Linked DNA regions of Homo sapiens: region 1 is linked to region 2. The links come from fine-mapping of genetic effects on gene expression. A gene starts in region 2. The other region holds a variant in brackets. All regions are shown on one strand. Distances are between the middles of the regions.

The links. PIP is the estimated chance that this variant, and not a neighbour inherited with it, causes the effect.
Region 1: its variant is the best candidate, but not a certain one, in a credible set for the expression of ZNF823 in monocytes after LPS (Fairfax 2014, PIP 0.61).

The regions. Positions count from the first base shown.
Region 1 is chr19:12,304,475-12,309,854 of GRCh38, forward strand. No RefSeq gene overlaps it. Among named protein-coding and RNA genes, the nearest start is that of ZNF44, 12 kb to the left of the region's middle. The variant C/G (reference allele first, on the strand shown) is at 2,219.
Region 2 is chr19:11,736,218-11,741,597 of GRCh38, forward strand. ZNF823 (zinc finger protein 823) reads right to left here and starts at 2,729. Exons shown (of 4, transcript NM_001080493.4): 1 at 2,600-2,729. The coding sequence starts at 2,602. RefSeq lists enhancers at 2,103-2,232, 2,623-2,702 and silencers at 2,303-2,452, 2,713-2,907.

The sequences.
Region 1 (5,380 bases), 570 kb after region 2:
CTGGCCAACATGGAGAAACCCCATCTCTACTAAAAATACAAAAATTTGCCGGGCATAGTGGTGCATACCTGTAATCCCAGCTACTCGGGAGGCTGAGGCAGGAGAATCGCTTGAACCCAGGAGGCGGAGGTTGCAGTGAGCCGAGATCGCGCCATGGCACTCAAGCCTGAGCAACAGAGCAAGACTCCATCTCAAAAAGAAAAAAAGAAAAAAAGAAAAAGAAGGGGGTGTAGTGTGTCGAACTAAGTGGGTGTCAGGGGTTCACTTACAGACTTTGTATGTTTTTACAAACTGCAGCAATTAAGTCGTCAATTACCGTGTTGATTTAAATACATATAAAAACTTTCAGACAAAAATAGACGTTCACATTACCATGATGAAAAAAGTCAGTAATGGTGATTCCTCTGTGAAACTAGAAAAGAAATCCAGTGGTTAAACTTGGCAGCTCCAAGGGTATCACTGCCCCCTAGGACAGTGGTCCCCAACCTTTTTGGTAGCAGGGAGCAGTTTCATGGAAGACAACTTTTCCACAGACTGCGGGGGAGGGGTGCGGTTTTGGGAGGATTCAGCTGCATTAAATCTATTGTGCACTTTATTTCTATTATTATTACATTGTAATATATGATGAAATAATTATACAACTCACCATAATGTAGAATCAGTGAGAGCCCTGAGCTTGTTTTCCTACAACTAGATGGTCTCATCTGGAGGTGACGGGAGACACTGACAGATCATCAGGCATTAGATTCTCATAAGGGGCGTGCAACCTAAATCCCTCACATGCACAGTTCACAACAGGGTTCGTGCTCCTATGAGAATCTAATGCTACTGCTGATGTGACAGGAGGCAGAGTTCCGGCAGTAACGTGAGTGGCCCAGTTCCTAACAGGCCATGGACCTATTACTGATCCGTTGCCCAGGGGTTAGGGACCCCTGCCCTAGGCAACATCTTGAAGATCTATTTGAAATACACTTCTTGACTTTTCTTTTTTCTTTTTGAGACAGAGTCTTGCTGTGCTGCCCAGGCTGGAGTGTAGTGGTGCGATCTCAGCTCATTGCACCCTCTGCCTCCTGGGTTCAAGAGATTCTCCCACCTCAGCCTCTTGAGTAGCTGGGATTACAGGCATGCGCCACCACACTGGCTAATTTTTTGTATTTTTAGAAGAGATGAGGTTTTGCCACGTTGGCCAGGCTGGTCTCAAACTCCTGGCCTCAAGCGATCTGCCCGCCTCAGCCTCCCAAAGTGCTGGGACTACAGGTATGAGGCACCGTGCCCAGCCTGAAATACATTTCAATACAAGTTATTCCCCTGAATAAAGAATCAGCTCTTATCAAAGCCTAAAGTGATCAAATGCTTGCCAAAAGCTGCCGTTGATCCGGGTTTTTTTCTGTTTTTTTTTTTTTTTTTTTTTTTTTGAGAGAAGTCTCACTCTTATCCCCCAGGTTTGAGTGCAATGGCTCGATCTTGGCTCACTGCAACCTCTGCCTCCTGGGTTCAAATGATTCTCCTGCCTCTGCCTCCCAAGTAACTGGGATTAAGTCGCCTGCCACCACACCTGGCTAATTTTTGTATATTTTAGTAGAGATGGGGTTTCACCATGTTGGCCAGGCTGGTTTTGAACTCCTGACCACAAGTGATCTGCCCGCCTCGGCCTCACAAAATGCTGGGATTACAGGCATGAGCCACTGCGCCCGTCAATCCAGTTTTGTTTCATTCAAACTCTCTGTGGCCTGTGACATAGGTGACCACTCTCCCATCTTGAAATACCTTCTCCTGGAGGATTCCAGGAAGGGACACCCAATTCATTCTCCTCCTAAGTCACTGGCCTGCCCAGTCTCTTGCAGGCTGCTCCTCCTGCTAACCTCAGAGGTGGACAGCCATTGGTCTCCTCCTGAGCACTTGTCTTCTGCTACACTTTGCCCCTTACCCTGAAACAAGGTGGCTTCTGCTGGACCCAGGGCATCAAATAGCATCCATATGATAATGTTTTCCAAATTTCATTTAGATCTTTCTCTCAGGCTCCAGATCCAATACCCTGGTCAACACTTCGCTTGTTTGACTCAAACATGCCATGAGTGATTACAAAACATAACCCTTCATTTCCCCTCCAATCATCTCCCCTGGCCTTGGTCCTCTGAGTGAGGGGAAGCACCCAGGGGCTCTGAAAATAGGATTCATCCTTGCCTCTCTTCTCTCCTTCACTCCATCAGAAATCCTA[C/G]GGGAGCTGCCCCTGCCTGTGTAACTCCTAGTCAACCTTCAGGAATTTTTTTTTGTTTTTTTTGAGACGAGTCTTGCTCTGTCGCCCAGGCTGGAGTCCAGTGGCGTGATCTCGGCTCACTGCAACCTCTGCCTCCCAGATTCAAGCAATTCTCCTGCCTCAGCCTCCCATGTAGCTGGGATTACAAGCATGTGCCACCATACCTGGCTAATTTTTGTGTTTTTTAGTAGAGGCAGAGTTTCACCATGTTGGCCAGGTTGGTCTAGTCTGGAATTCCTGACCTCAAGTGATCAGCCCACCTCAGCCTCCAAAAGTGTTGGAATTACAGGCGTAAGCCACTGCGCCTGGCCACCTTCAGGCTTTGAGAATTAGTCTCACTGGGGAAGCCTCCCTTAGTCTCTCAGACTAGTGTGAGAACCCTCTCCACCATCATATTTTAGAGCCACACACTCTTCTCTACTGCGCTGAAGACGATCACCACTGATCCTTTGTTTATGTCCAGAACTGCTAAACAGTGGGATTGATGGGGCCTTTCCCCACCCTGGAACCCGGCTCCAAAAACACAGCTTGGGTTCATAACTAGACTTCTCAATACACAACCTTCTGTCGATATCCACTAATATTACCCAAACCCACGCCAGCACAGCCTCTCTTCAAACTACAACTATGGCTTTTAAGCTGGTCTCCCAGGTCCCCTCTACCATCTATTCTCTGCCCACCAGCAGGAGTAAGCTTCTTCAAACACAAACCAAACATCACTTCTCTGCTCAAAATCCCATAAACGGCCGGGCGCGATGGCTCACGCCTATAATCCCAGCACTTTAGGAGGCCAAGGTTGGTGGATCACAAGGTCAGGAGTTTGAGACCAGCCTGGCCAATATGGTAAAACCCCGTCTCTACCAAAAATACAAAAATTAGCTGGGCATGGTGGCAGGCACCTGTAGTCCCAGCTACTCGGGAAACTAAAGCAGGAGAATCACTTGAACCCGGGAGGCAGAGGTTGCAGTGAGCCGAGATCGTGCCATTGTACTCCAGCCTGGACGACAGAGCAAGACTCTGTCTCAAAAAAAAAAAAAAACTATAAAAGTGTAACCTATCTTTAAAAGCGTAACTTATCCTATAAAAGTGTAACTTTACTGCCTATCTAACCACGTCTTTTATTACCTGAGCACTCTATGTTCCATGGACCAACACGATGACACGTGGGAGCGAGTTAGAAACGTGGACTCTCACACTCTGTCCCTAATCTGCTGAGCCAGAAGCTGAATTTGAGGATCTATAGTTCCCCGTGAAATTTCAGAAGTGCGTCTTACAAGTTTCCCCCTTAACCTGACCCAGCCATAAGGGTATTGCATATTCCTCACCACTAGGGTATTTGAATTAACAGAACATCTCAGGTGGGGGCAGCAAGGGGCTGGGGCTGGGGCTGGAACTGGGAGAGGAGACAAGTGAGACATCCTTAAGAAGATGATGTGGCGAGGGCGAGGCCGCCTTCCCAGCACTGCTATGTCCTGGCCCACTGCTCTTGAAGTGCAGGAATGGCCACTCACGGGAACTGATCAGGAGGATGCATGTGTGCTCAGCAATGTGCTGAGGCTGTAGCGCTTGCACATGGCCACCCATGTGCTCAGTCTGGGAGTTTGGTATTCAGGGAAGCGTGTGCACCAGCAGGCAGCAAAAGTATGTGGGTCCTCCTTGCCAGCCAGCCCATACTGCTCGGGGATGGGCTGAAAGTGATGGAGAAGAAGGGTTTTCTTTGCTCCAAGAGGCCAGTGGTAAAGTCACAACAAACACCAAAATGTCATGTTTCATAAGCTCTTTAGCTATACAGCAATTTTAAAACCATCTAAGAATTAAACATATTTCTGGGCACAGTGGCTCACACTTGCAATCCCAGCACTTTCAGAGGCTTAGGTTGGAGGATCGCTTGAGGCCAGGAGCTAGAGGCCAGCTTGGGCAACAAAGTGAGGCCCCCATCTCTAAAAAAAAAAAAAAAAAAAAATATATATATATATATATATATATACACACACACACATATATATACACATATATATGTATGTGTATATATATATGTATATATATATGTATGTGTGTGTATATATATATACACGTATATATATATTAGCAAGGCGTGGCAGGGTGTGCCTCTAGTTCCAGTTACTTGGGAGGCTGAGGCAAGAGGATGCCCTGAGCCCAGGTTCGAGGTTACAGTGAGCTATGATCATGCCACTGTACTCTATCCTGGTGAGACAAAATGAGACCCTATCTCTAAACAGAAAAATAAAAGAAGAGGCAATTAAACCTAAGTGTCTATTAGAAATACACTTCAATGCTGGGCACGGTGGCTCACGCCTGTAATCCCAACAGTTTGGGAGGCCGAAGCGGGTGGATCACCCGAGGTCACGAGTTTAAGACCAGCCTGGCCAACATGGTGAAATCTTGTCTCTACTAAAAATACAAAAATGAGCTGGGCATGGTGGCGGGCACCTGTAATCCCAGCTACTCAGGAGGCTGAGGCAGGAGAATCGCTTGAACCCGGGAGGCAGAGGTTTCAGTGAGCCGAGATCACGCCACTGCCCTCCAGCCTGGGCAACAGAGTGAGACTCTGTCTCAAAAAAAAAAGAAAAGAAAAAGAAAGAAATATACTTCAAGCAACTCAAGAATCCCAGAGAATACAAAATGGAAAGAAATTTTATTAACTGCTTCTATTAAGAAAACACTATTCGACTTATGAACCTTTATGTGAAGAAAACTTGCAAAAATATCTCACATCAATTTTTGTATGAAAGTAAGAAGTAGGATTCATAGTGTAGATTCATGTTAAGAATGAGGCACTGGTAAAGAGAAAGAGAATAGAGTTATACGTTTTCATTTCTTTCCTATTGCAAATTCTCTGGAGCATTATACATGTCTTAATTTTAATCAGATTTTCCTAAATTACTTACATTTATAGCATTTCTAGACAGCAGGGGTTGGGATGAAGAAACTTCAATCCAGCAAAGTTTGTATATATACATTCATGGAGGTGACATTTAAGTCATTTCATTAGGAAACTCTTTATTTTTTATTTTTTATTTTTTTGAGACGGAGTGTTGCTCTGTCACCCAGGCTAGAGTGCAGTGGCACTATCTCGGCTCACCACAATCTCCGCCTCCCGAG
Region 2 (5,380 bases):
TAAAAAAACAGACCTGAGGCTGGGCACGGTGGCTCTCTCCTATAATCCCAGCAGTTTGGGAGGCCAAGGCAGGTGGATCACTTGAGGTCAGGAGTTCGAGACCAGCCTGGCCAATATGGTGAAACCTCGTCTCTACTAAAAATACAAAAGTTTTAGCTGGGCATGGTAGCATACGTCTGTAATCCTAGCTACTCAGGAGGCTGAGGTGGGATGATTGCTTGAACCCAGGAGGTTGAGGCTGCAGTGAGCCAAGATCCCACCACTGCACTCCAGCCTGGGTGACAGAGCGAGACTCCGTCTCAAAAAAAAGTAAATAAAAGTTTTAAAAAGAAATAAAATATAGGACTAAATATGTAATGAGTTTGCTGAAACCCAACTTGTTCTTGTCTCTTTGAACATACTTTATCTTCTTTATTAAGCTCTAATGATAAAATGCATTTTGCAGTTAATAAAAAGCTGAAATGAGTGAACAAATCTTTTCAAGATGACAAATGCAGGGAGGGGCTGACTGGAACACAGACAAATCTGACTACTTTAGTGTCAGTTCAGGTCCTCTTATCACTTGGGACATCTCCCACCCCAGTGCTGCTCACTGAACTGCTGAGTAATTACCCTCCAAGGAGAAGCTCCCTCAATACCGCCAACCAGCTGGCTCATCAGCCATGTGTCCCCAGGGAATGGAAACTGGGGTGGGGAAGAAAAGCTGAATGTCTTAAGGGCTTTGCTTTTTGAGGAACAGTATACCAGGAAACTCCTCCCACCCCACGACATCCAGCTGCTCCCCTATAAGGTCCCACCCCCCACCTCTGGCTGTCCTCTGGGAGGAGTGACTCAAAGCTGATATTCACTAGACACTACAAAAGACTTAGCAGCTATGAGCATCTTGGAGCAGCCCCAAACAGTTCTGTAACCCAGGACCAGGACACCATAGAGGGTGGGCTGACAGATCACCCTGTGCCATTTGCAAAGAGGAACCTCGACTGAAAATATTCGGGTATCTCTGTGTAGACAAGATAAAGGACAGCCACACATGCACTATTTTTTTTTTCTTTTTCTTTTTTCTGAGACGGAGTTTCACTCTTGTTGCCCAGGCTGGAGTGCAATGGCGTGATCTTGGCTCACCGCAACCTCCGCCTACCGGGTTCAAGCAATTCTCCTCCCTCAGCCTCCCAAGTAGCTGGGATTACAGGCATGAGCCACCACCCCGGCTAATTTTGTATTTTTAGTAGAGACGGAGTTCCTCCATGTTGGTCAGGCTGGTCTCGAACTCCCGACCTCAGGTGATCCGCCAGCCTTAGCCTCCCAAAGTGCTGGGATTACAGGCGTGAGCCACCGCGCCCGGCTTTTTTTTTTTTTTTTTTTTTTTCACACTGGAGTCAAGTGGTTATTCTTTGCTTCCTCACATGTGAAATGTTCACAAACACAAAAACACATCTTTTAAAAAGAGCCATACATTGCTATGTGAAAAGAAAGTGACAATTAAAATAATGCCTCTGTTTGAAATATTGCCTGAGGGACAAAGAGTTCATAAAGTTGCTGGGAATTGATGAGAGACAGTTAGCCTGGGGAAGGCTCTGAAAACCAAGAGATTTGCTGCCAGCCCTAGGAGGAGTTAGGATGAGGGGATAGGGTGGTGGATTTGAGACCCTGCTGCCCACATCTTTGGAAGACTCGGAGGGAAACCGGTCACCTTTGGGAAGAAAGAAGGGACTGGGGAACCCACAGATCACAGCTTCTCTTCCAAAGCACAAAGCCCACACACACGAGTCTGGATTCTGCCTGGTGACCCTCCGTTGTCACCGTGCAGCGTCCTCACCGGGTTCACAGGAACTGCGAGCCAGGCTGGAGGCGAGATTGCAGTTAGATATTAACCAGGTGCCCTCAGCCCCGCTGCCTCACGGGGCCGCCTCCCTGAGAGTCAGGTCACAGCAGACGCTGACCGCCGGCTTCCTCATCGTGCCCGGGGATAAGATCTCTTGAGAGTTGCTCACGGGTCGCCTCAGTTCTTTCTCGGATCCTGAATTGCAGCGGAAAGGCTGGCGCCAACCAGGCTGAAGACCCCACAAGGGAACCCACTCAGCAGAATGCGGTTTCTTCACCTCCAGTCCCAGGAGTCACCTCTCACTTCTCCACCAACCAGCGACCCCACACTCCAGCCGTCCCTGTCCACACCTCTAAACACCCCATCCCCAAACCTCTCAGGGAGGCGGATCTGGGGTGTCCTCCCCTCTCCCCCATTAAACTGTTTCTGCTGCAGCCTTCGGCGTCTCGGTGCAGTGACTCGGGCCGTGAACCTGTGCCGGTTACAACTGCACAATCTGGGGAGACGCGGAGCTGCGGGCGCGGAGCTGCCCAGAGAGGGCGCCGGGGCCGGGGCCGCAGCGGCCGAGCAGGGACGGGACAGGACGCCCGGGGTCCCGGCTGCCGCCCCAGCCCCATCTTGCGGCCCAGGGGACCAAGGGCAGAGCTGCGCCAGGGGCACTGGGATTTGCAGACCCCGGAGTCGCCCAGGGCGAGGCCCGGGTCCCCTCACGGTCGGTTCCGGCCGGTTCCAACCTGCCCCTTCTTTGCCTCGGGACGCCGGGCCCCGCACACTCACCATTTCCCAGCTTCCAGGTGTCCGGGTGTCCTCCTTAAAAGCCAGTGTGGGTCCCAGCGCGACAGACGCTGATACAGACCTTCCAGGGCGTCTCTCTCTCAGCGCCAGAGCCAGGACTCAGAGCGCAGGGGCGTGGAGAAGACTCCGCGGGCTCTTTGAACGTCGCACCCTCCTCCCTGCAGCGTGCCTGATTGACAGTTCTCACAATCCCCGCCCCCTCATCCCTGATTGGATAGTGCTCCAGGTCCCGCCCCTTGGTGGCTGATTGACAGAAGAAGCGATCTCACAGTGCTGAGTGGAGCCGGATGAACAGGTTCCAGGCACGACCCTTGGCAAGGCGGGCTTCCTCCCAACGGAGTGACCTGACCCCTCCCGAAGTGACGTTTGCATTTTAGAATTTCCTGATTGTATTCAGTGGGTTCTTCCTGCTTTTTCCTCCTGGACAGGGACTCACAAGTGTGTGCAGGGAATTCCAGGCTCCCTGTCCAGTGGAGCCATTCCCGGACCTCGGAGCAGGAGGGGAGCCCGGGGCACACAGGCCACCCTGCAGCAGGAGGGAGGGCCTGATGTCCTCCAGGGATCAGGAATTTGGGATGAGGCTGTTGGCGACGTTGCCAAGCCTTTCCCTCACCTTATCTCTCAATCTACTCATTTTCAGCCCAGAAGATAAAAACAGGACAACAAAATAAAATAGTTGAGTATGTGGAAAAACTGGAATTATATGGCAGCAATATTTCATAAAGAATCAAAAGAGAAGAAAAGCAAAAACTTGAACAAGCTCAGAGAAGCAGCCTACTGCACTCACAGTTCACAAGCAGACCCCCTTTCAGGAGGTCAAACATATCCCCAAGCTGGGAAGCCAGGCAATGATTCCTAAAATGGAGCTCCGGGGTGGATCAGAAGCTGGTGATAAGGGAGGGACAATTAAGAATTTTACTCTGAGGTCTCAAAATACCTGTCCCCTCTGCACAGCGTGGAAATGCTCCCTCCTTATGCCATTAAATGTTAATGAATTAAACGCTCCAATCAAAAGCCAAGACATCACACTTTGAATTTGAAAACATTAGCCTTTCTCCATATGTTTATGAAGTAAAAATACTAGACTTAAAAGCGTTATGGCCGGGCGCGGTGGCTCACGCCTGTAATCCCAGCACTTTGGGAGGCTGAGGCGGGTGGATCACCTGAGGTCGGGAGTTTGAGACCAGCCTGACAAACATGATGAAACCCCGTTTCTACTAAAAACGCAAAATTAGCCGGGTGTGGTGGCACGCTCCTGTAATCCCGGCTCCTCAGGAAGCTGAGGCAGGAGTATCGCTTGAACCCGGCAGGCAGAGGTTGCAGTGAGCCGACATCACACCACTGCACTCCAGCCTGGGCAACAGAGCGAGGAAAAAAAAAAACTCCATCTCAAAAAAAAAAAAAAAAAAGCGTTATGAACTAGAAGCTGGTAGCCATGGCTAAATAGAAAGGAGCTGAACATGAGATGTCAATAGATGAAATGAAATCTTCAATCAACTTCTAGAAACTATAGCATTTTCTGCCAGGACAAATGGGCACGTTTAGAAAATGAATGAAAAAAATGACGTCTGAGTATAACCTAATGCATAAATGATACTGTTTCCTTAAAAAAAAATAATAAGCACACACACAGACACACACACACACACTCCCACAGTCTATTATGCTAGAAACTGCTCTCTGAAGGATAAACTACTATTTTATGAAATGCTCCACCCCTCACTCCTCACATTAACTGCTCCTGGAACAATGTTCTATTTATTTGTTTCCACACATATTAAAAGAGGGCACAATGTATCAAACTAACTGATTGTCAGGGGTTTATATACAGATTCTGTATATTTTTACAAATGGCAACAAGTAAGTAGTTGATTTCTGCAATGATTTAAATACATATAAAAGCTTCCAGACAAAAATAGCTGTTCGCATTACCATGATGAAGGAAAAATCAACAATGGTGAGACCCACACCCCCTCCCCCAGAGAAAGTATAAAAGAAATCCTAAGAGAAGCTAGAAAGCCCAAAATTTGTATGTGCAAGTTTAAACACAATATAGAAAGTATTGCTGTTAGTTTCCTCACAGTCAGTTCTATGGCAACACCATGCTTTTCTGAGTTAGGATGTTTATTTCTGAGTTTGTCTTTTTTTTTTTTCTGAGATGGAGTTTTGCTCCTGTTGCCCAGACTGAAGTGCAATGGTGCAATCTCGGCTCACCGCAACCTCTGCCTCCGGGTTCAAGCAATTCTCCCACCTCAGCCTCCTGAGTAGCTGGGATTGCAGGCATGCGCCACCACATCTGGCTAATTTTATATTTTTAGTAGAGACAGGGTTTCTCCATATTGGTCAGGCTGGTCTCAAACTCCTGACCTCAGGTGATCTGCCTGCCTCGGCCACCCAAAGTGCTGGGATGACAGTTGTGAGCCACTGCACCCGGCTATTTCTGAGTTTTTTAAAAGAAAAGGAAACACAACTCCTTCCCCAACCCTCTGTCACGAAGATATCCTCTAATATCTGCTGCTAAATGTACCATTTCAGTGTGAGTTAACTTTAATGCATGCAGTAAGGAGCTCAGTTCGTGTTTCTGAAGGTCAATATTCAACTTCCTTAGTAGCTTGTTGAAAAGACTTTCCCCTTTAATTTATCTTGGCCTATTTGTTGAAGATTAATTAACTATCCATGAAGAGTGTCTTAGTCCATTTGTGCTGCTATAATGAACTACTGCCAAGTGGGCAATTTATAAAGAATATTAATTAGTTTTCTCGT